2 separate regions of the Homo sapiens genome follow, and region 1 is linked to region 2. The links come from fine-mapping of genetic effects on gene expression. A gene starts in region 2. The other region holds a variant in brackets. All regions are shown on one strand. Distances are from middle to middle. Region 1 holds the start of SPATA18 (spermatogenesis associated 18). Region 2 holds the start of SGCB (sarcoglycan beta).

Region 1 (16,451 bases), 19 kb after region 2:
AACTTGGGTACCCACCCAGTGGGTCAAGGAACAAAGTAAAAGCTAGAAGTAAGAAGTACTGAAATTTTAGTTACAAGTTTCATACAGGTAAACCCAAGGCGCTACAAATGAAGAATTAAAGGAATGAAAGGCGAAAGAATAAAGGGGCCAAAGAGGTGATCTCCTGAGAGCCTAGCCCCAAACTTCTATAGAGACTTAACTTCTGCTTTTCTGGACACGCGTGGGCACCCAGAACCCCGAATGGGGAGGAATGCTGTAGACGCCCTGCTGCCCTCCAGCCCGCGCGGCTGCGCGTCTCAGTCCACCCCTGGGGCGCGCGGCTGTCACCCAGGGCGGGGCGGCGCGGGCGTTGCCACGACGCGGGCCGCGCGCGTCCCTGGCAGCCAACCCGTCCACGTCAAGGTTTGTTTAATAATCGCCAGGGTATCTATGGCCGGGCTCAGGCGGCTGCTGGGGAGCCAGGAGACCGCGCGGGACGGCGGATGAGGCGCGGCGGCTGCGGCCCAGGGCACCTCCCCTCTGGCTTCCCGAACCCGGCCAGGTCCGACCCGAGGGGGAGGATGGAAACACCTGCCGCGCTCTGAGCCCCCCAGAAGAGAACACCCTTCCCGCCATATCACCCCACGGTCCTGCGGAGGCCACCGCCTGGTCCCCCCAAGTCTCCATCGCGCAGCGTGGGGCCGAGAGGAATAGTGAGCGATGGCGGAAAACCTGAAAAGACTGGTCTCAAACGAAACTTTACGAACGTTGCAGGAAAAGCTAGACTTCTGGCTGAAGGAGTACAACGTGAGTCTGGGTGAAAAACCCCCGGGGTTCGCCCTCCCATAGGTTCCAGCACAGCCCTTGTCGGGGATTTCTTAGGGCTGGAGTTGGTGGCCACTTTGCAAAGCCTCCGCGGTTGCGATTCCTAACCAGGATCTCAGCTTTCGACCGGGATCGCTGGGGAAGGAAGGACATGTGTGTACATGCCCTTGTCTCAGAGCTTCGGGAGGCGGCGCGCAGGCGGCCTGCGGAGCGCAGCACTAGGCTGCGGAGACTGGAGAGTGCTTCCAATCAGTGGTAACTAAGGACGCCGGCGACCTAGCAATAGGGAAGCCCTGCTGTCCGCGGCTGGTCTGGTCATGCCTGCCACTCTTTCCCATCCCCCTTGCCAGCGCAATCCACACCGCCTGCTTCCCCAATCCCGAATTATTTTTTACTACAACCCTCTCCTGCCCAGGGTTTGTATCAGAATGGATTTGTATAAACACACACCCAGGAGTTATTTACCCAGAAATCAGCGAAACGGACACTTGTTAACGTTGCGGGTTTCACTTGCGTGCTGGTGGGCCTGGAAATTGAGGCACAGTTCCAACACCAGGGCGGATTCAGGCCTTTTTCCAGGCATTTGTGAGAAGCCAGTATTCTGTCACCAAACCCATGAGCACTTTTCAAATCTCATTAATCCCTACTCGCACCCTGCCTCCCCATAATTCCCCCCTTCCCCCAAATAGAACGGTGAGTGTTGAATTTGCTTTACATTCGGTCGGTCCGTCTTAAATAGGGATTTCCCCTCTTACATAATAAGTGGAGCGGCCAGGCAAAAGAACTGTGGACCGGAAATTAGCCCCCCCTTGTTTCTACATTTGGCTCTGCATAGAACTAGCTGAATGACGGAGTCAAATTATTTAACTTCTCTTGGTCTTAGTACCTCATCTGTGAAATAGCAGAGATTGGTCTAGATGATATGTAAATTTCCTGTTCAGATTTTAAGTTTTTGAGCCTAGATTAGCTTGTTTCTGAGATCCTGCCTGTTATGAGGTCCTTAGGCTTCCCCATTCACCCTTTAACCAGTGCTCCTGAAGTGGAGGGGAGCTCAAAGAGCAGCTACAGCTTTCTCCTTAGCCTTCCTTTCTAGTGCTTCCTGTTCAGTCCTTTGCTCCCTTTTAAAGAACAAGCGCTGACCATTCCTTCTCCATTAAGAATTCTGGAAAGTTAAAATGACCTCTTTATCATAAAAGACTTGGGTTCCCCCCAACTAATTTTAAAAGTACCTACTACTTAGTCTCAGGAGGTTGAGAATAAGAAATTCTAACATGTATACAGTATTTACCCCTTTTTTTTTGCCCAGTGGCCTAACTAAACTCTGAATTTTAAAAAAACATGTTGTTTGTCACAATGTTTATTACAAATAACACTAGGATTTGTCTGGAACTAATAAACAATTATTTTAGAAACTCCCTGTAAGTGATGAGAAGTGCCTTAGTTTATTACATTTTCCTGTCTTGATAACATCCCATTCTCTGCTCTCATTAAAACCATTTCCATCCAGCTGTTTTCCCTTCATCTCTCTACAGTAGAGGCTGCACTCACAGCCACCAGTGTTTTTCATACCTTGTGGCCACTCCCCAGGTTCCATCATTTCTCTTGAGTTTGCAGGCATCATTATCACATTGGAATGTTGACACCTGTATTCTTCCCCCTCCACTCCTGCTTCATCTGTTACAAGTATGCTGATGAATCTTATTTCTATAGGATGTGTTCCCATCTGAGCTCTCACTTCTCCAACTGCCCATTGGACATCTTTCAATAGTGAATGCTATTGAAATGCTCAGAATGCTCAAAGTCAAATCTGTCCAAAATGGAATTTAGCCTCTCCCATGCCCCAACCACAGGTCTCATTTTTCTAAGTCGTCTTCATCATTATATACTCCACTCCCTTTTCACCATCATAATCTGTTGGTTCTAACTTCAAAGTTCATACGGAATCTAAACACTTTTCACCACCCCCACTGCTACCACCCTTCTCCATCCTTGATCATCTTTCACCTGGATTATTACAAAAATAACAACCCAAAGAGATGCTTCTAAATGTCAAGTCAGATCAAGTTACTCTTTTTGCAAGACACTCCAAATTTCCTATTTCAGTCAGAAGAAGCCAAAGCTCCTACAGTGACCTTCAAAGTCCTACACAATTGTGCCCCTTTAAGCTCTTTAACCTTATCTGTTACTCTCTCCCTTGCTCAGCCCACTCCAGCAGTACCAGCTTTCTTGCTCGTCCTAGAGCAATGCTGTCCAATAGAACTTTCTATGATGATGGACAGGTTCTATATCTGCATTGTCCAATAAGGTGACTATTGGGCACTTGAAATGTGGCAAGTACACACTGAAGAACAGAATTTTTAATTTGACTTAAGTCCAATTTAAATTCAGATAGCCACATGCAGCTCATGGCTGCTGTCTCAGACAGCACAGTTCTAGAGATGTGGACATGCTTCTGCTTCAGGGCATTTGCACTCACTGTTTTCTCTGCCTGAAAAACTTTTCACCTGTTGATATTTGAGTGAGATAGTAACATCCTCACTTTCTTAGGAGAGCTTTATTTCTTAGAAAGGGTAGCAACCTGCAGGCTGGGAAGCAGGCCCCTGCTGAAACCAGAGGCAGGCACTTGGAGGTAGGAAAGGTAAGGCAGGAATTAATGATGAATGGGTTGGCCACATGTATACATATTCAACAGGTAATATTCACGAAGGGGGAACGCTCACAAGCATAGTAAGCAAACATGCATGTTACGTTCATCCTATATTCATTTTGGGGTAGAAGCTTAACATTTAAATGTATTACAATTAGGCCCTATACATCAAAGGTGGAGGCAGGGACATGAAGGAACTTAGTGTACAGCCTCTGTGGACCGGCCAGAACCAGCCTATGGTCCGTGATCTCTTATCAAGAGAAAGTTACTGAAATCAGTCTCTTATCCAGTTGAAGTTGCAGTTATGGACTGTGGAACGGGAGGGGATCAGTTAGTCAGAGTCTGGTGGTCAGTGAGTTGCAATTGTTTTAACATTGTTTATCTCGAGGCCAGTACTTGCTTAGCTACTAGATAAAAAGAAAAAACCTTTTGACAATTAGAACATGGTTGATTCTTTATGTGTAGGGGTATGTGACTTAATCCTTGCCTGGCATGACCTTAGGTCTTTATCTTATTGCTGTAAAGAGTCTGTTATATTAGTCTTAAGATCTCTATTTTAACAGTAGCTTCATGCAGTCCAGAAAATTTTGCCTGTAACAGAACTAGCAGTATTTTTGCAGCAATCATGGTAGCCAAAGGAGGCTCTTAGCCCATATTTGTGTGACAGGGGTTAGTGACTTTAAAAGAACATGTCTTTATGTTAATAATGTTGGTGGTTGTATTCCTGAATATTTTATTCTTTTCTATTAACTCTTGCTTTCCTGTCTGCACAAAGCCATTAGAATGTGTTTGAAGTTTACTTATTTCAGTTCTACACTTATAACGTGGAAACTTCTTATTCATTTCCCTGCCTTCATTCATGCCCACTTCCAATCCAACTTTGATACAGCTGTTTGAAGCATCATTTTTATGGCTCTCATTGCCAATACTAGTGATTCTCAACACAGGCAAGGCATTGTCCCCTAGAACATTGTTTTTAAAACTTACCTACAGGACTCAATGCATTTTACTTCACAATATAGCACACATAAACCCTTATACTTAAAAACTCAAGTTTCATTAATAATTCTTACCTTTACTCATTGTGGTGTGTTTCTCTATTTTCTTTTTAGTATTATTTGCTGTTTGAGACTCACTAAATTGGTTTTGTTACCCACTAATGCTGTGGTTATCAATCTTCATTGCATATAGGAATTGTCTAAAAAGCTTTTATGTTTCCAATGACCAGGCCCCACGCGAGAGCAATTAAATCAATTTCTAGGAGTGGGAGCCCACAAAGCTCCTCAGGCAAAGGCTTTCCTGAAACTTCGTGGCCCTTACCAGCTTCTCTTTTGAGTTTTACCTCTGAAATCTGGACCAATTTTTATTATAGTAAGTAGCATGTGTTTTTGCATTTATTTTCGTGTTTATCTTAGACTCTAAATTCCTCCAGGGCAGGAGACATTGTGTCCCTAGCATCTACTGCATAGTGGCGTCTCCATAAAATTTCTTGAGAGTATAAATGCATGAATAAACCATGCCCTTCTGCTTCTTGAAACCATCTGCTTCTTCGGCCTCCTTATTCTTCTTCATCTTGCTTCCTGGGTGTCCTCTCATTTCTGATTGCTCTTGTTTTGTTTTTTATTCACTGGCTCTTCTTACTCAGACCACTTCTGACATAGCAAAATTGCCCCTCATTCTGCCCTCAGCCCTCTCCTCACTCTTTCCTCTCCCTGGTAATCTCATCTGTGCATGTGGCTTCTGCACTCTCCCACTTGCTGAAGCCTCCCAAAGCCACACCTCCCAGTCCTGTCTCTCTTCTAAGCTCCAGACTTACTTTCCATCTGCTTTGGGGAAAGCATTGTGTTTGAGAGCTCAGCTCCAGTGCTGGAGGCTGCAGGAATGGGTCTCCACCATTGTCTCTTCAAATTACTTAATTTGTTTTTCCTCAGTGGTGAATTTTGGATGATGATGGCATCCCATTTGTAGGATTGTTCTGAGGATTAAATGGAGCCATGTATATAAAGCTCTTAGCACAGGGCCTGGCTGGCATATAGTAGGTGATCAGTAATTATTAGGTACCACTACTGGACATTCCATCCGAAGGTCCTGCAGGCCCCCTGACTTGTTCAAACCCAAACTCAGGATCATCCCTCTCATACCTCTTACTCATTTCTAAACTCTCTGACCTTCTTAGGTAATGCTGAAATCGGTGGGACCTTTACTGGCACAGGTGTAATTTGGGGCTGGGAAGGACCTTTGGGAGACCCTTAGTATGTCTATAGCCTCCAGCATCTCTCAGCTAGATGGTTATACCCATCTACCTCCCCACCAGACTCACCCTGTGACCCAAAGTCTATCTGGTCTGCTTTTGCCAGACAGATTTTTGTAACATGCAAAGCAAATATGAGCATGTCACACCCACCTTCCTCTGTTGCATCCTTAAACATTTTGATGATGGAATAAAGCCCAAGACCCTTAATGTGGCAAGTCAAGTCTTTCAGACTTGGTCTCTGGACCCTGTACTCACTTTCCGCTAATATGCCTTGGTGCCTTCTGTTCCTCCTCTTGAAATGCCCTTCCCTCTTACCCTTCACACCTCACCAGAGGTTATTTTTCTGCTCCTATAGCTTGTTATCCACACAGAGCACTTAATATAAACTCTAAGGTAATTATTTATCCCCTTGTTCTTATCTTGTTCTCCATCTCACTTCCCCATCTAATTAGTTCACTGACTGCAGGCAACTTTTTTTTTTTAATATAGCTTTGTTTCCTGAGCTTTGTTTCCAGGGCCTTACATATAATAGAAACTCAATGATTTATGAATGAATAAATCTGGAGAGTCTGTGCTTTGGAGACAGTATAATTAGTCCATATCTTTGCTCTGGTTGTCTTGTGTGGGTATGTAAGTATGTGTTTACTAGAATAATGTGACCCTATTGCAACTTGATTATCTTGTGCAATGCTTTGTGTTTAGAAGTTGCAGCATGTTGTAACATGTCTTGGGAAGGGGAACTGTGTGGCATAGGATATTCTCTCCTGTTATTTAAGATGTGTTTAAAAACTCATTTGACCACCATTCCTCTGGGTACCCAGTATGTACCAGGCACTGGGCAAGGCATAGGAATAGATAGTAATGATACCACAATAATACTTCTAATTATTGTGTACCTCTTTTATGCTAGACTCTGCTCATGAGATCAGCTACCTCCTAAACAGAGGGAAACAGAGCCTCATATTTAAATGTCTTTTCTAAGGGAATGCAGCTGATAAGTTGAGAACCAGATTTGAACAAAGGTCTGCCTTATTCCTAAGCCACTGGCTCCTTTCAATACTGCATGCTACCTCATAGGTGCCAATTGATGAACACCTTCTGTGTCTGAGGTGCTGGGCGTGTATTATTTTGATTTAATTCTAATGCTCCACAAGGCATTATTATCCCCATTGCATGGGAGAGGAATGGGCTCAGAGAAGTTAAGTAACTTGTGCAGGGTCACATAGAACTGTGGCAAGCAGCAGAGCTGAGATACTCAGGTTTGCTTGACTCCCAAGCTCATTCTCCGTCCACTTAGCACATGGAATGATCTAGCCAGAGGGCAAAAGGCTTGTAAGCAGGTAATTGAAGTTCAGTGTAATAAGTGCAGGTATAAAATGGCCAGGGCAAGGAGCTGCTGAATTAACGAGGAAGAAATGGAGATAGCTGTTCAGGCTATGGGTTTTAAATGCTCTATCATGTCAACATTACACTGTTAAATTATTCATTCATCAACGTTGTTTAGACCCTTCAATTTGCTAGGATACTAGTGGCAATAGATACAAACATGAGCAAAGCAATATCATTTTTAAAAAGAACTCATGATCTTTTTGGGAGGAGAGATTAGATGGATGAGATGGAGAAAAAATGGCTGCAGGAGAAATCAATGCTACAACAGAATTAGTCATCAGGTACCATTTACCAAGCATGGAAATTAACCCAGCTGCCCTCTCAGTTACAAGTCCATCCCATCCAAACTCCATGCCAGGTGCGAAAGGCTCTCCAGGTCAACTTGCCCTGCCAACCTCTAAATGTCCTTCTGTGCCTCTGCCACATTGACATATTCAAGGTTGCCAAACTTGTTCCTGTCACAGAACCTTTGTCCTTGCTGTTCCCACTGCCTGGTAAGCTCTTTCCCTAGT[G/A]GTGTGCTTCCCTGAATCTTATAACCCAGGAATACTCAAGGGTCCCCTCCACAGAGAAGCCTTCCCTGGATGCCCTCCCCATTCACTCTTGGTTGCATCATCCAGTCCTCCATGTACTCCCAGCAAGAATCATGATCTAAAAGTCAGTATAGTTTAGTAGTTAAGAGCATGGGCTCTGGAAGCTGGGCTGCTGGGGTCCAATCTCAGCTCTGATAATTTACTAGCTGGGTAGCCAAGAACCAGTTACTTAACCTCTCTGTGCCTCAGCTTTCTCATCTGAAATGGGAATGATAATAATAATTCTTCTAGCTCCTATTGTACTAGTGAGAGAATTAGCTGAGTTTATATATGTAAAGCACTAATAGAGCCTGGCATATAGGAGAGATATAATAAATACAAAGTGAGTGAATCATCTCATTTATATGCATCCATCCAATACACAATGATTCTGAATACAGGGGCACTGTAGAATGCAGGGGTGGGAATACAACAACCAACAGGACAGGCCCAGTCTCTGTCCTCAAGGAGCTTCTGCCTGTCTGAACCATTTCCTTGGTTGATGCAGATGTGCTTTTGACTTGTAAACTTTTGCCTAGAGATTATCTCAACTTTTCTCTTACTCCACTCCTAGTTTCTATCTGCCTTGTACGCTGTTTTCTGTTCTGGGATTTGTTGTGTCCAGGAGGCACCAAGGACCGATGCCTTATTGAGCCCTGAGGTGACACATAAATCGATGCATTTTTACAACCACATGATGTTTGTTGCTTGTAGTTGTATTCCTTCTTCTAATGTTGGAGTCAGTTAGAGATTTGGCTTATGTTGAAATGGTAGAATCTTTCAAAGGAATGAGGAAAGCAGAATAATAGCTAAAAGGTTCACTTCTTGGCCTCCTCATGTTTTGTTCTCATTGCTTAGAATGTTTCACAACCACTGGAACCACTTCCTTTTCCAAGTCTGGCTAATTTCACCTTGGACTAGATTTCACTTCCTCTTGGAAGCCTTCCCAGACTTTCCAAGACAATGGACTCTTGGGTAGAGCTTGCGCTCATCTGTGTAGGTAAGACTTATTATTCCGCTGCAGAGTAACTGGCTATTCATCTGTCTGCCCCACGAGTCTGCAAGTGCCAAGTCCCTTATATCCTCAACCCAGCAATACCTTCTTGCTGTTAAGAAGTAATGTTCTCTATGCATATATAATATATACAAATTGAATTTATGTAGAGGACAGGAACCAATAAAGCAGGTAAATTCGGCAGTCATTTGTATTGTCTTATAACAGGTCTATTTACTTTTTAAATGTATTTTTGTAGGGTTTTACTGAGTAGGATTATTGCTATAAAAAACAACCTCCAAATCTCAGTGGCTTACACACAAACCAACTTTCTCAACCATGTGACAATTCAGTGCAAGCATTCAGTCAGCAGCCTTGCAAATCTTGTGGCTCCACCATCCCTTATGCCCTCAGCATCCTCTCTTGGCTCTTCTGCATTCAGTTGGCAGAAGGGAAAAGAAAAAAAAGTCATTCAAGAGGTTCTCTTCTGGGCCAGGCCCCAGGCATATATCACTTCCCATCCAGTTAACCAGAATTCAGTTACATGGCCACACGAACTGCTAGGGAAACTGTGAAATGTGGTCTAGTTTTGTGTCCAGGAGGAAAGGGAGATAGGTTTTGGTGACTACACAGCAGTCCTGCCACAAAAGCATACCAGAGCCAGGCAGCTCGTGGGTCAAGTGAGGCCCTGGTCTGTCTGCAGTGGGTCCCAGAGTGAAGTAATTACCCTGGTTATCTACTGTTTTGCCCTTGCAGACAAACACGTGTGATCAAAATCTAAACCATTGCCTTGAACTCATTGAGCAAGTTGCCAAGGTGCAGGGACAACTCTTTGGGATCCTCACAGCAGCAGCCCAAGAAGGTGAGAATGGCCTGTAATTTCCCATCCAGTTCTGCTTGCCTTTCTCTCTTTTCTTGGTGCTTTTTTGTGTTCTTTGACTGTTGGTGTGGTTGGGTTTCTCTCACTGACCTGATGACCTGATGTGTGTATTCTCTCTTTTTTTTTTAATTATACTTTAAGTTTTAGGGTACATGTACACAACGTGCAGGTTAGTTACATATGTATACATGTGCCATGTTGGTGTGCTGCACCCATTAACTCGTCATTTAACATTTTAGGAGGACGTAATGATGGTGTGGAAACAATCAAGTCACGCCTTTTGCCTTGGCTGGAGGCTTCCTTTACTGCTGCTTCCCTGGGAAAATCTGTTGACAGCAAGGTCCCCTCTCTGCAGGTAGGGATGCTGAAGGATAACCCTTGACTTTCTGAACAGTGAGATAAAACGAATCAGAAACCTCCAAGAGAAGAAGAGGACTTGATTTTGGTAGACTGATAGAGTGTCACAATTTGTGATGGATATTGGTGGTTTCCATGGGACGGTGTTAGTTTTTGAACAGGTAGAGATCAGACTAGAAAGAGCGCACATACCTTGCTTAAGGCATCCACATCATTACATCTGGGCAACCAAAACATTAGTTACTTTACTTTGAAACATTTATATGGATTTACCTATAATCCTTTCTAAAACAGAAGCATTTAGAAAGCATTTAGTCTGTTCTGAGAAAACCAAACATCACATGTTCTCACTCATAAGTGGGAGCTGAACAATGAGAATACATGGACACAGGGAGGGGAACAACACAGCAGGGCCTGTTGGGGGATTGCAGGGGTGAGGGGAGAGAGAGCGTTAGGACAAATAGCTAATGCATGTGGGGCTTAAAACCTAGGTGACAGGTTGATAGGTGCAGCAAACCACCATGGCACACGTATACCTATGTAAAAAACCTGCACATTGTGCATGTGTATCCCAGAACCTAAAGTAAAAATAATAATAATAATAATAATAATAATAATAATAACAGAAAGAAAGCATTTAGTCTGTTCTGAGCAAGAGCATTATAAGATAGTGGCTGAAGGATCCCTGCTTGGAGATCACTGAGCAGAAAACCAGTCCCTCTTTTATGGCCCTGGGTAGGTATCTAAACATTTATGTCTCAATTTTCTTATTTGCTGAATGGAGACAATGGTTTTGCTGATCTAAAAGGTTCATTTGTGAGAATTAAATGTGATAAGCACACTAAACAAGTTACACAGGGCCTGACACATGTTAAGTACTTTATAGACTTCAGTTATCATTAAGTAATTTTTTTTCCCTGAGAATTTATGGACGCTTCTCAGGTTTTTATCCTCTGTGTGGGTGTTATTCTAGGTATAAAGATGTAGAATTTCAAACTGTTTTTGGAAATTGAGGTATAATTTATATTCAGTGAAATCCATAGATTGCTATTTCAGCAAATGCATATACCTGTGTAAATTCCCATCCCTATTGGGATATCAGACATCTCCATCACTCTAGAGCATTTCTTGCACCTTCCCCAGGGCAACCATCTTCTGATTTTTATCACTCTAGATTAATTTTGCCTGTACTAGAACTTCATGTGCATGGAGCCGTGCATAATTGTGCTCTTTTGAGTTGGGCTGTTTTTTAAAAATTCATCCATGTCATTTAATGTATTCAGACTGTTTTTTTTTTTTTTTTTTGGTGTATCTTTCCAGGACACGTTTGATAGGGAGAGACATAAAGATCCCAGTCCTCGGGATCGGGATATGCAACAGTTAGACTCTAATTTGAACTCAACCCGGAGTCAATGCAACCAGGTTCAAGACGAGTAAGAGGAATGCAAGTTATCTTTTTCCAAAAAGAATTGTTTTCAATTTAATTAAGTTTTAAATTCGAAAGGAGAATAATGGCTCATGTAAAATGTGGGCATTTGCAAATAAGTAATATGATTGTGTGTGTGTCTGTGGGCATGTGTGTATGACAGAGAGAGAGGGAGAGAGAGACAGAGAGAGAGAGTCAGTGGTCAGTGTCTGTGGATTTGGGGACAGGATATATTATGATACATGGTCCCCTGGTTCCTTCTTTGGAGTTCCTTCTTCATAGGCACATCATCAGCCTATATTGACAAACAGGTAAAGATTGTTAGACAAAAATCTACCTATTGGGAGAAAAATTTTTAAAAAGATGTGAAAGGGAAAGAATAAAAGAGAGTGAACAATCAGGCAAAGAGGAGAATTAAGAGAAAGACAGCAAAAGTCAAATGAAGCAGGCTGCATCTATCAGTCCATTATACTCATTTAGGGGTGTATGTGTGCTTCTCTGAATCTGAGAGAGTCAGAGTCTTTTAAGAAAGGAAGAATTCAAGATTTTGCAATATCTATTAGGTATAAGAATGTATTTTTTAAAAGTTAAGCAATTCCAGGCAACAACACATATCAGATGCATGTTGTGGGCAGAGCCAGGGTAGCAAGCTTAGGGAATCACTGCAAAGAAAATTGTATGTGGACTTTGGGTTTGTACTTGAGGCAGGTAGACAAATATGTATGAAACTGTGTTTGACATACCTAACAAAAATCCATCAATGGGAATTTCTCCTACCACAGCATTGCTTCATTGCTGACATAAATGGGACAGAAAGGAAATCTTTTTTTAAAAAAAATTAATAACTAGTTAAGGCTAGGATGGAATAATGTGTGGTGCTCTGCCTTGTTCCCTGATGACATTTCCATTTTTCTAAGGAAGAAATCTCTATTGATTTAGTTTTGCCTGATTATAAAAGTAATACAAATTTCTTTCTCAAAATGCATACAACAAATAAAAATTGATGAAAATCACTTGTTTTCTTGTCCCCATTAACATTTTGGTATATTTTACTCCAGACATTTTTCTTTGTGCCTGCACCTCCACACATATCCATTCATATTTCCAACTGGAATCATAATCAATGAGCAGTTATATACCTGAAGCAGTCAAAATTTATAAATGTAACATGCAAAAAGCATAAAATATATAATTTATTTCAACCAATGTGAGCTCATTTTGAAGGATTCTTCAATAAGCCACTTCAAGGTCACACAGTCATTTTTGGTTTATCGTAGTCCATTTTCTGTAAACATTCAGCTCATTCCAAGTGCAAACATGCATTAAGAGCTATTTTTGCCCTCTCATGGGGTCTCCCTTCCCCTCATCCTTTCTAGGGAAGGGATGCTTGTATACTCTCCTGGTGACGGACATGAGGAGTTTTTGGTCTTATACTGCCCTCTGGGTTCTTGCTGGCCTTAATTTCATGTAGGCACTAGTGTCTCGTGCTGATGGGTCCTGAGTTGTGCATGTCTTGTCTGGGGAGGTATCCTGGGACATTAGCTAGCAACGGCTGCAGATGACCCTCCATTTTCCTCTAGTTGTGAGGAAGGGCATCAAAACTTTACTGGTTCTTGATGGCTGTCAGCACCAGTAGGGGCCAGGGTTTCCCACTTCTCTTTCTTGTTTCAGTGACACTGTTGTTACCTATAAGGGGTACCATAGATCAAGAAACTTAATGCATGCTTTAAAAAAACTTTTCATTTGAAAATAATTTCAAACACAGCAAATCTGCTAGAATAGCGCTAAACATTTCCATATGCCCTTTCATATGCCTTTTGCCCTATATGCTTTATCACGTATGTGTTCCTTCTCTTTCTATATATATATATATATATATTCTCTCCACCAACCATTTGGAAGTTGCATACATGAAGATGCTTGCTGCTTTTCCCTGGTTTTCTTAGTTTCTATTTTTATGTTATTTCAATAGATTTTGGAGAACAAGTGGTATTTGGTTACATGGATAAATTGTTTGGTGGTGATTTCTGAGATTTTGGTGCACCTGTCACCTGAGCGGTATACACTATAGCCAATATGTAGTCTTTTATCCCTCACCCTCCTCCTTCCTTTCCCTCCAAGTCCCCAAAGTCCATTATATCATTCTTAAGCCTTTGCATCCTCATAGCTTAACTCCCACTTATAAGTGAGAACCATATGGTATTTGGTTTTCCATTCCTGAGTTACTTCACTTAGAATAATGGCCTCCAGCTCCATCCAAGTTGCTGCAAAGGCCATTATTTCATTTCATTGTATGGCTGAGCAGTATTCCATGGTGTATATATACCACATTTTCTTTATCCACTCCTTGGTTGATGGGCACTTAGGTTGGTTCCATATCTCTGCAATTGCGATTTGTACTGCTATAAACATACATGTGCATGTGTCCTTTTCATAAGATGGCTTCTTTTTCTTTGGGCAGGTATGCAGTAGTGGGATTGCTGGATCAAATTGTAGTTCTACTTTTAGTTAAGGAATCTCCACATTGTTTTCAATAGTGGTTGTACTAGTTTACATTCCTACCAGCTGCATAAAAGTGTTCCCTTTTCTCCACATTTACTCCAACATCTATTGTTTTTTGATTTTTTAGTTATGACAATTCTTGCAGGAGTAAGATGGTATTGCATTGTGATTTTAAATTGCATTTCCCTGATAATTAGTGATGCTGAGCATTTTTTTCATATGTGTATTGGCTGTTTGTGTATCTTCTTTTGAGAATTGTCCATTCATGTCCTTTGCCCACTTTTTAATGGTTTTTTTTCTTGCTGATTTTTTTTTGCGTTCCTTGTAGATTCTGGATATTAGTTCTTTGTCAAATGCATAGTTTGTGAATATTTTCTCCCATTCTGTGGGTTGTCTGTTTACTCCGCTGAGCAGAAGTTTATTTTTGTTTCTTTGTTTCTTCTGCTGTGCAGAAGCTTCTTAGTTTAATTAGGTCCCATTTTATTTATTTTGGTTTTTGTTGCATTTGCTTTTGGGTTCTTAGGCATGAATTCTTTGCCTAAACCAATATCTAAAAGAGTTTCTGGTGTTATCTTCTAGACTGTTTGTGGTTTCAGCTCTTAGATATAAGTCTTTGATCCATCTTGAGTTGATTTTTGCATAAGGTGAGAGGTGAGGATCCAGTTTCATCCTTCTACATGTGGTTTGCCAGTTTTCCCAACACCGTTTGTTGAATAGGGTGTCCTTTCTCCACTTTGTTTAGTTTTAACTCACCTGTAGTTCTTATTCTGTTTTTAAATTTAAGGTATCACTAAAAGAATTTGTTCTCCACATTCTATGGTAGCCAGCTCTCTCTTCCCTCCCTTACTTTGCCTACTTGTCTCTTAAGCCAGGGTGCTGCCCACGATGGAATGAATGGGCCACCCAAGGAGGTTCCCTATGTCTAACCTTGTAGAGACTGCTTTGGTTCTGACTTAGTTCCAAAATGCAAATTCCAATAATTATGGGCAAATGGCCACAAGTCTGCACAGGTTTGATGAACCCCCAAGCAAGGGAAGATTTTTAGATTTTATGCCTGGATTCTGGTTATGAATCTTGCTTTTCCTCCTCTCCTATATCCAATCTATCAGAATGTCCAATTGAATCTATCGCCTAAACTTTCACACTTGCCCCTTTCTTTCTATTCCGCCACCCCTGCCCTGGTTCAATCCTCTGACATCTCTTTCCTGAACCAATTGCCTTCCTTCTGACTGGCTTCCCCACTTCCATTCTTGGTCAACCACCATCCGTTTTCCACTTAGCAAATATGTATATGTTTTATTGTATCAAGTCATCCTTCTTTTTTGTTTTTGTTTTTGTTTTGAGACAGAGTCTCGCTCTGTCACCCAGGCTGGGGTGCAGTGGTGCGATCTCGGCTCACTGCAAGCTATGCCTCCTGGGTTCATGCCATTCTCCTGCCTCAGCCTCCTGAATAGCTGGGATTACAGGCACCCGCCACCATGCCTGGCTAATTTTTTGTATTTTTAGTAGAGATGGTGTTTCACCATGTTAGCCAGGATGGTCTCGATCTCCTGACCTCATGATCCGCCCACCTCAGCCTCCCAAAGTGCTGGGATTACAGGCGTGAGCCACGGCGCCCAGCCATATCAAATCATCCTTCTGATTAAAAGCCGTTAGTCTCCTCCTTTTAAAAATATTATATTTTATTTTAAGTTCCGGGATACACGTGCAGGATGTGCAGGTTTGTTATATAGGTAAACGTGTACCATGGTGGTTTGCTGCACAGATTAACTCATCACCTAGATATTAAGCCCCACATGCATTAGCTATTTATCCTGATGCTCTCCCTTCCCCCAACCCCCAACAGAGCCCAGTGTGTATTGTTCCCCTCCCTGTGTCCCTGTGTTCCCGTTGTTCAGCTCCCACTTATGAGTGAGAACATGTGGTGTTTGGTTTTCTGTTCCTGCGTTAGTTTGCTGAAGATAATGGCTTCTAGCTTCATCCATCTCCATGCAAAGGACATAATCTTATTCCTTTTTTGGCTGCATAGCATTCCATGGTGCATATGTACCACATTTTCTTTATTCAGTCCATCATTGATGGGCATTTGGGCTGATTCCATGTCTTTGCTATTGTGAATAGTGCTACAGTAAACATACATGTGCATGTATCAATAATAGAATTATTTATATTCCCTTGGGTATATACCCAGTAATGGGATTGCTGGGTCAAATGGTATTTCGGTTCTAGATCCTTGAGGAATCACCACACTGTGTTTCACAATGGTTGAACTAATTTATATTTCCACTAACAGTGTGAAAAAGTTCCTATTTCTTTGCAGCCTCGCCAGCATCTGTTGTTTCTTGACTTTTTAATAATCGCCATTCTGACTAGCATGAGATGGTATCTCATTGTGGCTTTGATTTGCATTTCTCTAATAATCAGTGATGTTGAACTTGTTTTTATATGTTTGTGGGTCACATAAATGTCTTCTCTTGAGAAGTGTTTGTTCATGTTCTTTGCCCATTTTTTGATGGGGTTGTTTGTTTTTTTCTTTTAAGTTTGTTTAAGTATTCTCTTCCCTTTATACTTAGAAAAAATTCTAAATTTCTCACCAGGGCTCTCATAACACCCCTCCTGATCTGGCTGT
Region 2 (12,504 bases):
AATTTTTTTACGTATACAACTGGCCCTCCATATCCATGGGATCCATATCCATGGATTTAACCACTGTGGATCAAAAATATTTGAGGCCAGGCGCGGTGGCTCAGGCCTGTAATCCCAGCACTTTGGGAGGCTGAGGCGGGTGGATCACGAGGTCAGGAGTTCAAGACCAGCCTGGCCAAGATGGTGAAACCCTGTCTCTACTAAAAACACAAGAAAATTAGCTGGGCATGGTGGCACGCACCTGTAATCCCAGCTACTCCGGAGGCTGAGGCAGGAGAATGGCGTGAACCCGGGAGGCGGAGCTTGCAGTGAGCCGAGATCCCGCCACTGCACTCCAGCCTGGGCGACAGAGCGAGACTCCGTCTCAAAAAAAAAAAAAAAAAAAAAAAAAAAAAAAAAAAAAAAAAAAAAGGGAATGGTTGCATTTGTACAGAACATGTACGACTTTTTCCTTGTCATTATTCCCTAAACAATACAGTATAACAACTGTTTACATAGTGTTTACATTGTGTTCAGTGTTGTAAGTAATCTGCAGATGGATTTAAAGTATACAGGAGGATGTGCAGAGGTTACATGCAAAAACTGCACCACTTTATATAAGGGACTTGAGCATCAATGGATTTGGCTATCCTTTGGGGGTCCTGAGACCAATCCCCCATAGATATTGAGGGACAACGGTATATATTTTCATTTATATGAAAATAAGACCGGAAAGGCTGACATAGTTTGTTACTTATAATTTCACTGACTAGAGCTCACATTACCCTAGATCAGTAGTTTTCAAATGCAGGGTGGGGAGTCCTGGGAGGGTTCCACAAACCCTTTGGGGGGCTGTATTTTTGAAATAACACTGAGATACTGTTTGCTGTTTTTACTCTCCTAGGCCCATGAATGTAAAGGCTACATGACCAATGTGATGGCATCATCACTCAACAGAATGTATGCTTGTATAGCCCTGTACTTTAAAAATTTCTCCATTTTAACTTCTCCTATAGTAAATATCAATGAATATAACCCACATAAACCAAAGCTCTTTGGAATCCTCCATTTTTTAAGAGTGTAAAGAGAACCTGAGACCAAAATGATTTGAGAACCTCTGACCTAGACTATGGTTGAATGACATTTTGGGTAATAATCTTGAATATCAAGAGCACAAAAGAAATGGGCAGAAATGGATACTGTCCTACTTATTTCTTAAAGCTCTGAGAAAATTCAGTTGTTGAATACGCATGTATTAAGCACTTTACGCTTAAACACTAATTCCATAGATAGGAATACAAAAGAACTATAGGAAAGGGTCCTTATCCTCTATGTATTAACAGATATGATTTGTGTACATGTTAACATAAAATATTTAACAATGCAATAAAGCACTCTGTATGTTCAGGTGCCAAAATCAATAGTCTAGGCAATACACACTGCAGAGTTCAAAGGGAGGAGAGACAGGATGACCTGGAGTTGTTAGGGAAATGGGGAGAAGTAGATGGGTCAGATATGGCAAGGCAGGGAAGAGGAAGTTGGAAAAGTAGGGCCAGGTTGTGAAGGTTCTTGGACAGCAGGGTACAAATTCTAGTCTTTATGTTCTATTTAATTGGGAGTCACTGGAGGTTTTTGAGCACAAATTCAGAGTGTTAAAGGTGTGGGCATTTGTACGAGAGAGAAGAAAGAGGAGTACCAGTAAGTAAGCTGCTGGGGATGTTGTAGTAATGGAGGATTGAGGTTAAGAGGACCTAAACTAAAGTGGGATGAAAAAGGAGAGATTAAGTAGATACTTTAAGAGAAGACTTAACAGAATTTGTAGTCAGGTTCCAAAAAAGAACCTCAGGCTTCTGACAGCCCTAACAGATGGGCAACTTAAAAGTGTTAGCCAAAGTTTGAATATAGGTCCACATAAAAGAGAGAAAGGACAAAATTCATCCCTCCTGAGACGTAGTCTTTACTCTTCTCTGCCAAACCATGCACATTACTGTCTTCATCTTGATGCATTTAACATTTATTGAATAGTTACTATAAGCCAGGTGCTCCAAGCTACCAGGATGAACATAGTGTCCACCCTCAAGGAGCTTAATTACAGGCCAGTCAGGTAGACAGACAAGGTGACTAACAGTTCACAAAGCATGACAAGTGCTGTAGTGGAGCAATGCATACAATACAGAAAGGGTACAGAAGAGGAATGCATCTCCACCTAGCAGGCAAGGGCATCAGGGAAAGTTTCTAAGAAAAGCTGAAGGTTGAGTTAACTCTTGAAGGATGGACAGGAGTTAACCAGGCAAAAGAGCTAAGAAGGTCACTCTAGGCAGAGGAAGAAGCATGGAGACTTTGAGAGGCAACCATCTCTGGGAGAACTAATTTTGGTCACTTTATGTGGATGGTGAGAAGGATAGGTGTAGGGATGAAGCAAGAAATACAATGAGAGATGTGCTTAGGGGCCAGTAAGCAACATAAATACCATGACAAGAACAATGGACTTTATCCTGAAGGCAAAGGGGAACTACTGAAGAGTTAAAATAGGTTTCCTATACAATCAGATTTGCATTGTAGTAAAATCACTCCAAAAAGAGATGAACTGGAACTGAAGAGCCTAGAAGTGAAGATATCAACAGCAGGTTTCTCTAAGAGTCCCAATGAGGTACTGACTGAGGTTTGACTTTGAAGCTGAAGTCTGGGGAAAGGTGTTAAGAGGTAGAACTGTCAGGATCTCGTGATTGTTTGGATATGAGTGTGGCACAAAGGGGTCGAAGATGACTCCCAAATAGGACTGGCTATATAATTTGTGGGGCCCAGGGGGAAAAGAAAATGTGGGGCTCACTGTTTAAATCTCAAGCCCAGGACAGCAGAACATTAAACCAAGTGCAGGTCCTTCTCAGCTCCCTTAAAATGGCCTTGGTCCTAAGTTTCTGGCTAGGTTAAACAAGTGAATGGATGGTTGTAGCCTTTTTAATAGTAAGTATGACAGAGTCCAGTTTTGAACATTTTTGAGTTTGAGGTGCCTATGGAAAATTCAGTTAAGTTCAGGGCTGGAGACGTAATGCGTAAATTTGAAGTGGAGACTGAGTAACGGATCAGACTGCCCCACTTATGTGTAAAGCAAAAATAGAACCAGATGGAAAAACAATCATCTGAAACAGAAGCTGATAACTTAGGCGGGAAATGAGGAAAGCCAAGGCACAATTTAAATACCAACTCCAAGAAGTTTTGTCTCCTTTCAGTTTCACTCATTCCTCTATGTTTTATTTTACTGTTACAAATCTGCAGCCTGCCTATTGTCTTTAGCTGATTTTTTCTGCATGTATTTGGCTGTATGACTTTAAGCTCCTTGAAGAGAGATTTTACGTCTTTTATCTTCAGAATGAGCCCTCCAGTGACATATATCTAATAGGTCTCTAAAAAGTTAATTATCTAAGAAAATCGTTCCAAAGGTCAAAACTTGACTCATTTTTTTCAACAATGTTTTAGAATGAGACTTTTTAAAGAGAAACTACTATAATTGTTCAAAGGAAAAGTAAGTTAGGTAAGGGGGAAAGTTACTGAAAATTATCTGTATTACAATAAATCACCCTAGCGATTACGTGTATGTATATATTAACACACACACATATGCATGTACATGTATGCATACGTATAACTAGATTTTGGGGGGATGAGGAGCCTTTTAAACCATTCTAAGTTACAAGTTTACAATGCAGGTCAGGAAATCTTGGATAAATCATTTTTAAAAGTGAACAGGAGATAGTTTTAGACTGGTGACTAAATCTTCAAAAACCAAAGCGTGAGGGGAAATCTGGGATGTCTGCATATTGGAGATGGCAGAAACAAAAAACAAAGATGGCAAGCTGACACCGGGGCAACAGCTGACCCGTTTCTTGTAAGAGGAGCCTTCTCGCTGGGGCTGCGGTTATTTTTATCCAAATCTCTGCTGGCGGCTGAACGGGGTACGTCCCTGGCACGTCCCAGCGCAGGCTTCCAGGCTGGCTCGACCGCCTCCCAGGCTCTCCGGAAGGAGACCCCTCCTCACCCCCTCCGAGGATCAGCCAGGCCGGGCCGAGCCCGAGGCCGCCCCTGGCTCCTGGTCCCTAGCTTGTGCCAGCATCCTCGGCGGGGCACAGCTCCTCCCGCCCCGCCCCGCCCCGATCGGCCCCGCCGAACCCAGACCCTGCGGCCCGCGCCCCCCGCACCCCCGGCCAGGGCTCCCGCGGGCCCAGCCGGCAGGACGCGGCCTCCCCCGCTCCTCCAGCCCGCGGCCGCGGCGGTACTCACAGACCTGTTCTGCAGCCGCCGCCGCCGCTGCCGCCATCTTCCCGCGCCCGCCGCCGCCGAGCTCCCCGCCCGACTGTGCCCGCCCCTCCGCGACCGCACCCTGCGCGCCTGCGCTTGCGCCCTGGCGGGGACTGGGGGCACCCGCTGCTCACACCCTCCCCTCCCCAGCCCGCATCCCTGACGACCCGCATCCCAGCCCTGCGGGCTCAGGCTCTGCGGCGGCCCCTGCACCTAGGACCTTGGCCTGGGGCGCGTTGTATTGCACAGGGGCCAGAAGGGGCCTATGGGGATTCCGCTCCACCCCGGGCCGCCTGCAGATTCCTCAGAAAGGGCACCCTCAAAAATCGAGGACGCTTCTCCCCTTCCCCTTTGTTCCCCATCGCTGAAAGATCGGTGCCATCCGGAGCTGTGAGGCTCTCTTTGTTTCTCGGACCAAGGTCTCCTTGGCTAGGGTGGGAGGGGCCGATATCGAGACCACAAGTGGACGCGGACCGGCGTGGTGACTGCGTGGGCAGAAGTGAACGAGTGGTCACTTAGGTGGCTGGAGTCTTGAAGACTGAGAGTCCTCAAGGAGGACGTTGAATCCTTCGGGCTGCTTGACTTCGGAGGCCTATGAAGTCTGATGTTTTTATCCTGCGATACTGGGGATGGATTTTTCATTTAGTGTTGGAGATAGTGTTACCATGTATATCCTCGGGAACCTAATTGAACGGACATTTACTGAACACCGGGAAGCCACTCAAATGTACGAGTTACTTGAGTAGACATTCATTGTTCCCTGTTGTAGATATAATCCAATAATTATTTTAGCTGAAAAAAAATGCAGTGAAGTCAATAGCAACTGTTCCTCATGTAGCTGAATCACTTCTAATAAGCACCTTTGGGCCCTAGTACTGTCTAATTCAGTGGGAGTCAGTACCTAGCTGGTCATCAGTCTCTCTGCATTTCTTTTTTCCTAAATGCTGGAACCACTTGACTCATATCTCTAGACTCACTCCTCTCTGAGTCTGTGGGACAAACATGCATTTTAGGCAGGAAAATTCTAAGTTAAAGCCCAATGATGCAGGAGTCAGCAGTAAGGCTCTGTGTTAATATTCTGCCTGTGGTCTCATTGATCAATTTGCACAACTGGGCTTTTAACTGATTCTGAGTTCCTATCTTCTAGTCCTTAATTCCTAAGCTTTGCGTTTTTCTCTCTGCTGGGAAAGTTCTTCTTCCCTGGCACGCGCACTCTTATTCATCCTTCAAGAACTATTCTATTCAAACGTCATATTTTCTCTAAAGGCTTCAGAGGCTCCCACAGATCTGTTCCTTAACTGTGTGCCTAGCCTTTTCTAGCACTTCAGATTGCATTGTATTTTTATCTTGTCTACCTGCTGATTTCATTCAAAAGATGGTGTGTTCTATCTGGAAGGTAGGTGTCTTACTCATCGTTTAATCTCCAATGTCTAGCACAGTAATTAAACTTAATAGATATCTTAGAAATCTGCCCAGTATCCCAATTTCTAAGCCCTGACTTGATTTTGCCAACCTCCCTCCCACTTAGGTGGTGAGATACCTGGTAGCCAATTTTCCTGAAACCAAATGCTCCTTTGGCTATTTGAATATCACCTTCTCTTGGATTCTTTCCTCATCGCTGATGTCCATCTCTGACAGGACATCCCACTATTCTTAATGCCAATTTCTATTCTCTTTTAAAGAGATCCAATTCACTCACATGACCACATTTTAATGTGGGTTATTTTCAAATGTACTATTGTCAGCCTTTTTTCCCCTGAAATAATGACATTTAAAGTCAACTCTGTGCCTGGCAATGCCTCTTTTACAAATGAAGAAATCAAGGCTTGTAGAGGTTAAATGGCTGACCATCTTTTCAACTCCTAAAGAGCCAGTATTGAATCTAGGTCCATCTGACTAGTCTTTGCTCTTTCTACCATACATCACAGCCTTTAATTTTGCTCTTTCTTTTGACTGTTGCATGATATTAGCATTTGGAAGCACAAAACACAGGTCCCCAGGGCTGGAGTATGAGTCAGATTATGAAGACACTTACACCTTTGTTCACTTTGCAGTGGTTTGAATAGTGCCCTGCAAAAAGGCATATCCAAGTCCTAACCTCCAGTATCTGTGAACGTGGTGTTACTTTGAAACAGAGTCTTTGCAGATTGCTATAGAATGAATGTTTGTGTCTCCCCTGAATATTTCACATGTGGAAATCTTAGCCCCCAGTGTGATGATATTAGGAGGTAGGGCCTTTAGAAGCTGACTTAGTCCACTTTGTGCTTCTATAACAGACCATCTGAGAGTGAAGAATTTATAAAGCACAAAAAATTATTTTCCCACAGTTCTGGAGGCTGAGAAGTCCAAGCAGGTTCAGTTGTCTGATGAGGGTCTGGTCTCTGTTTCCAGGATGTTACCTTGAACACCTTGTCATCCTGAGGGGAGGAATGCCAAGCCCCTATGACCTGAACAGCTCTCAAAAGGCAACACCACCCAATGCTGTTGCATTGGAGATTAAATTTCCGAACATGAATTTTTGGGGACACATTCACATCATAGAAGGAAATGATGGGTGATTAGCTATCACTATTCATGATTAGTTCTCATGAATAGGATTAGTGCCTTTATAAAATAGATCCAAGAGAATTGGTTTGTTTCTTCCACCATGTGAGGACACAGTGACATCTATGAATCAGGAAACAGGCCTTCACCAGACACTAAATCTCTAAGCATGTTGATCTTGGATGTCCCAACCTCCAAAACTGTGAGAAATAAAGCTCTGTTGTTTATAAGCCACCTAGTCCATATTCTGTTATAGCAGCCCAAATGAACTAAGACAGATGTTTTTAAGGATCTTGAGATCACTCTGAATTTAGGATGAGCCCTTATCCTTATAAGAGGACAGAATGGCAACATACACTAAGATGATATGAACATAGAAGCAGAGATTGGAGTGATCACTCTACTAGGCAAGGAATACCAATAATTGCCAACCGCTACCAGAAGCTAAGAAAGAGGGATGGAGCAGATATACGCTTAGAGCCTCCAGAAGGCTCTGATTTCTTACTTCTAACCTCTGGAACTGTAAGACAACAAATTTCTGTTGTTTAAAGCCACCAAGTTTGTGTGTTACAAATACACACTTCAAGTTCAACACATGAAAAATTTGAACTCAAAACCTTTCTTCCCAATCTGGTCCTCCTGTGTTCCCTTAGTGAATGATATCACCATCTAGTCAGACACCTCAAAGTAGTTCTATACTATTTCTGGAATGATCTTTCTAAAATACAAATCTGATCATGTCACTCCTCACCCTCAAGCTTACCATACTCCAATACCTTTCATGATAAAATTTAAGCTCCTTATATTTGGTCCTTCACCAAATTTTGGTCCTTCACCAAAAGGTTAGAAACTTTTGGTCCTTCTGCCCCTTTCTAGCCTTGTTTCCTGCCTGTCCCACACACACATCCAACGTGACTACAGAGGAGTCAGGGAATCAGAGACAAAGTAATCTATCCCTTTATCCCTGTGCAATATTTGCAGCCCCCATCTGCTTGCCCGAACTCAAGTTCTTAATGGCTCTGTTCCTTTGCATATGTGGCTCTTTCTCCTTTTAATCTAGCTGTCTCTACTTGTCCACTAAAACTCAGATCAAGGGATATCTTTTCTGAAAAGCCTTTCTTAAACCTTCTCCCAATCATACATTTCTGATTTGTGTGGACCTCTCTGTGATCCCCAAGCATGCTGCTATTGTCACATCACACTATACTGAAATTTATTTATTTGTCCATCTGTTTTAGTTATCTGTGAATTCATGCCTCTCCAGATTCTTCCCATTTTTCAGAACCAACCTCAGTCCTACCTCCTCCTGACAATCACAGCCAGTCCTTATTCCTCTTTCCTTTTAACTATTATTGCACTAATTTGCTGTAACACCCATTTGATACTTAGTGCAGTATCTTGTTACTTTACTTTTCATGCATATACAGTTTGCTTCTGATTAGACTGAGTTCCTTACAAAGCAGAGGTAATGTGTTATTATTTTCCATGTTGCTCTAAGTCCTGAACACATTAAGAACCAAGTATATAATACATACTTAATAGCTCTGATGAATATTAAATTAATTTTTTCTATTGGGTAAAAAATATTACTAGCATCTAAGTATCTCTGACATCGGTATCTAATGCTCACCATACCATACCCCAGAGAAGGCCACTAGACTAACCCTCATCTCTGTGTCTTCTAAGTGCTCTTTCAAGGGTCCAGTTCTGCCCCTTCCATACTTAACCTCTGTGACCTCCAATGTGATATAAAAGAGACCCAATCATACAGTTTTTCTATTTACAGCCCTTTGCTGCCTCCCCACTGCCTATGAAATAAAGATCAATTCCTTTAGCCTGATACATAAGACCCATCATAGTTGAAACCAGGACTATCTTTGCAGTCTTGTCTCTGATTCCCTGACTACTCTGTAGTCACATTGGACTACTATTTGTCATTTTCTGCCCCTCCATTCAATTTCATGCCTCTTTGCTATGATTCTTCCTGTTTCAAGTTGCTCTTCTCTTCCTGGTGAACGTCTCTCCATCCTTCCAAAACAGGCTCTAAACATTACCTTTCTATGACTTTCCCTGATCCTTTTTCAGAAGATGGGAAAGGAGGCAAAGGAGGAGTCATTGTTTCCGCAGAACGTTTATCTACTCTAACTGACAACATTGAAGTATGGTTGCTTTTCTCTTTCTTGAATAGATTATGAGATTCTAGGGAACAGAGACTGAGCTTAATTCTGTCCATGCTTAAGGCAGATGGTTGTGTCACACTAGAAATCCAGTAAATGTTTATTAAAAGTGCTGAAAAGGATCTATTTCAACATCACTCATCCTAGGGACTATCTCGTGCTATCCCATATCCCTCTCCTGATGTGCTTAAGGACATCTTGCAAGGTAGACCATATCCACTGTGTCTCTGCAATAGCTTGATATGTCCTGAGCTTACTCCTCCTCGGGGGATTTTCACAGAACCATGACCTTGCCATTGCATTTAGCTAGCAGAGCTGAAAAGATGGAGGGTGAGGACGCCTTCTTTTCTGAAAAACCTATGATGGAAACCTGGGTTGCGATAGGAAAAATATTTTGCAGCTCTCCAAAATCACACTACATCTACCTTGGGTTTTTTCTCCTTCTAATCTGTATTTGTTGCAAATGTTCTATAGTTTATTTAGGGGCTAAGGTGATACACTTGTGATATATTTAAAATTTCCTCTTGTTTTTATAGTTTAATCAATAGTGCACATGAAATAATTGTACAAAAAAATTCTGAACTGCTGCTCTGTGTGGGTAGTGCTCCTTGGTATGACACAGCAAACAGCATTCTTCCTTCTGTCAGTGGGGGAACCTGCCTCCCACTCAGTTCCCAATAAATTCATTTGTTCTCCAATGGGTGTTTTTTAGAAAATATTTTCCTTTCCCTTAATGTGGCAGAGAAAAGGACAAAACAGAACTCCTGAAAGGAGAATACAGAACACTCAGGTTAGAAAACACTTAAGTGGACAAAGAAGTGTTTTGCTACCTACAAGAACAAAGTGCCTCTGAGCACAAAGGGCCTAAGCAATACCTTGGATAAACATTGCATTTAAAGGCAACTTTATGCAAGTGGGTCAGCAAAGACTAAAAGATTTTCTTCAAATAGTAATACAGGCCCTGATCCAAAGACACAAGATCCAAACACAGACAGCAGAAGGAGAAGAATACCGTGGCTCAGCCAGGAAAGGATGAGGAGTGCTTAAAAGAGCATCCAAGCCAAACACAGGTTGTTCTTATCAGCCCCTGGCTAAGGGTTAGCAACTGTCCTTAGTGAAGAAGACTTGAAATTAAGATGAAAATCCTACTGCGTAATATAATCCCCTGTAATTTATTGCATATATTTATGTTTGGTGTAGTGTGAACTAAATATACATAGCTCTCACTTCAGCTCTCACTTCAGGCAGTGGATTCAGCTCATCTTTTGTTGGCTTCTTAAAATGCCCAATTAAAAATCTTTCAAGCTGACTGATGTAGGTAAAAATCCAGGGTAGACAAAATTAAAATCTATTCCAAGGCCGGGCATGGTGGCTCACGCCTGTAATCCCAGCACTTTGGGAGGACGAGGTGGGCGTATCACCTGAGGTCATGAGTTTGAAAGCAGCCTGACCAACATGGAGAAAGCCCGTTTCTACTAAAAATATAAAATTAGCCGGGCGTAGTGGTGCATGCCTGTAATCTCAGCTACTCGGGAGGCTGAGGCAGAAGAATTGCTTGAACTCGAGAGATGGAGGTTGAGGTGAGCCAAGATGATGCCATTGCACCCCAGCCTGGGTGACGAGAGTGAAACCCCGTCTCAAAAACAAACAAAAACCCTATTCCATCTACGTACTTGACACATTATCCTTTCTAGAACAAATCACTCCTGGCTAGGTAGTAGAATTATGACACCGTAAGAACCACGAATTGGCTGTTAAAATTGCCTTCTATCTCAGTGGATTATGACATCAGATACAAAGCAGCCAATCACATCCTTTCCTTTCCAATCTGTTTCCTTTTCCTTCCTCTCTTCCTCCTCCTGGCTCCCAACTTGTTTCTTCTTTCTTATGTGCCAGTTGCTGTGCTGAGGATATGAAGCTAAATAAGCCTCTCTCCTTTTCCTCATGAAGCTCAAAAGCTTAGATAGGAAGCAAATAAATATAATATAGCATGATAATTGCAAGAATATTAACATGTCCAAAAGTTAAAGAGAGAAAGCATAAAGAAGAAAGTGATGAGCTCTGAGGGGTTGAGGTAATTAGGAAAAGTTTATCAGTTTAAGCTGGGTTTAAATTTGTTAAAAGTGCAACTATAGAGAACTTCCTTGACTGGAGGTTAGAAATAGTAGTTATTCTAGCAAGCTGGCAGAATAAATTTTACTAAAAAAGGGAGCCCAACTTTTGGTGATTGGCTAATGCGCCCAAAATCAATGCTTGACCTAAGGTGAACTATGAACCAAAAATTGAAACAAAGATCAAGATTTGCTCAATCTTGAACCTAATCAGTATGGTAAAACAGTATTAAAGACTGTCAGAACTGCAGGGGATCTGGGAGCTCATCTATTCCATATTACTCATTTTATAGATGAAAAAAATGTCTCCAAGTGATTAAAGATTTATATGAAGTCATAAGAATTCACTAATTGGCAGAGTGTGAGATAAAGCAACAGTGTTTATGTTTTGAGTTTGCTGTTCTTTCAACTTCTCCCAAAATTGCTTAATTGGTAATGTCCTAAAATAATCAAATTAGGACAAAATTTGAGCATCAGAATATTCCCCAAAGAGAATCATTACTTATCGGATATTTTCTGTCATATGTGAAAAAAACGAGGCTTATCAACTTTTATTTATTTATTTATTTGAGACAGAGTCTCCTCACTCTGTCACTCAAGACAAGAGTGCAGTGGCGCCATCTTGGCTTACTGCAACCTCCGCCTCTTGGGTTCAAGTGATTCTCATGCCTCAGCCTCCCGAGTAGCTGGGACTACAGATGTGCACCACCTAATTTTTACATTTTTAGTAGAGACAGGGTTTTGCCATGTTGGCCAGGCTGGTTTCAAACTCCTGGCCTCAAGTAATATGCCTGTCTTGCCCTCTCAAAGTGCTGAGATTATAGGCGTGAGCCACCACTCCCGGCCAAGACTTATCAACTTTTAAAATAGAATCTCAGCCATATTGACTACATGCTTATAATTTAACACACATGGACTCTTTAATTAGCAATATAAACTATTTGCACTCTAGGCTTTTGCTCTCTCTTAAATTGATTGCTATTTAGCACCCATCAAAAGCTCTGCAGAGGGGACCATCATTAACGGCATTTACGAAGACATCCACTTATTCCAACAGGTATGCAAGTTCTAAGCTTGTATCAAATAACATCACCTGAGAACTAAAAATGGAGTGTCAATTACTTGGCCTGCTCTTTGATGAGCTGTTCTAGCGTTACTCCTTCAGCATTCATCAAAGGTGGTTTCACAAAACAATAATATCAAGATTTTTTCTACATATTTTTTAAAAAAATTTATTAAGAGATCTTTCATCTAGGTTGTCCAATACTCTTTGGAAATGAGCAAACACATTGTAGATTGGTACCAATAAAATATGTTTTCATTGAAACAGCTAGTATGTGTACTTTAAACATCAATCATTATCATAAAACTCATTTTCCTTTCTGCTTTGGCTTCCA

What was found. PIP is the estimated chance that this variant, and not a neighbour inherited with it, causes the effect.
Region 1: its variant is fine-mapped to the expression of SGCB in whole blood (INTERVAL, PIP above 0.99).

Annotation. Positions count from the first base shown.
Region 1 is chr4:52,051,006-52,067,456 of GRCh38, forward strand. SPATA18 (spermatogenesis associated 18) reads left to right here and starts at 299. Exons shown (of 13, transcript NM_145263.4): 1 at 299-786; 2 at 9,414-9,519; 3 at 9,777-9,892; 4 at 11,215-11,327. The coding sequence starts at 700. RefSeq lists enhancers at 1-449, 450-949, 742-1,091 and a silencer at 272-571. The variant G/A (reference allele first, on the strand shown) is at 7,607.
Region 2 is chr4:52,033,966-52,046,469 of GRCh38, forward strand. It overlaps SGCB (sarcoglycan beta), which reads right to left and starts at 4,334. Exons shown (of 6, transcript NM_000232.5): 1 at 4,262-4,334. The coding sequence starts at 4,294. LINC02480 (long intergenic non-protein coding RNA 2480) reads left to right here and starts at 10,840. Exons shown (of 3, transcript NR_147189.1): 1 at 10,840-11,070; 2 at 12,060-12,164. RefSeq lists an enhancer at 3,747-3,866 and a silencer at 4,107-4,546.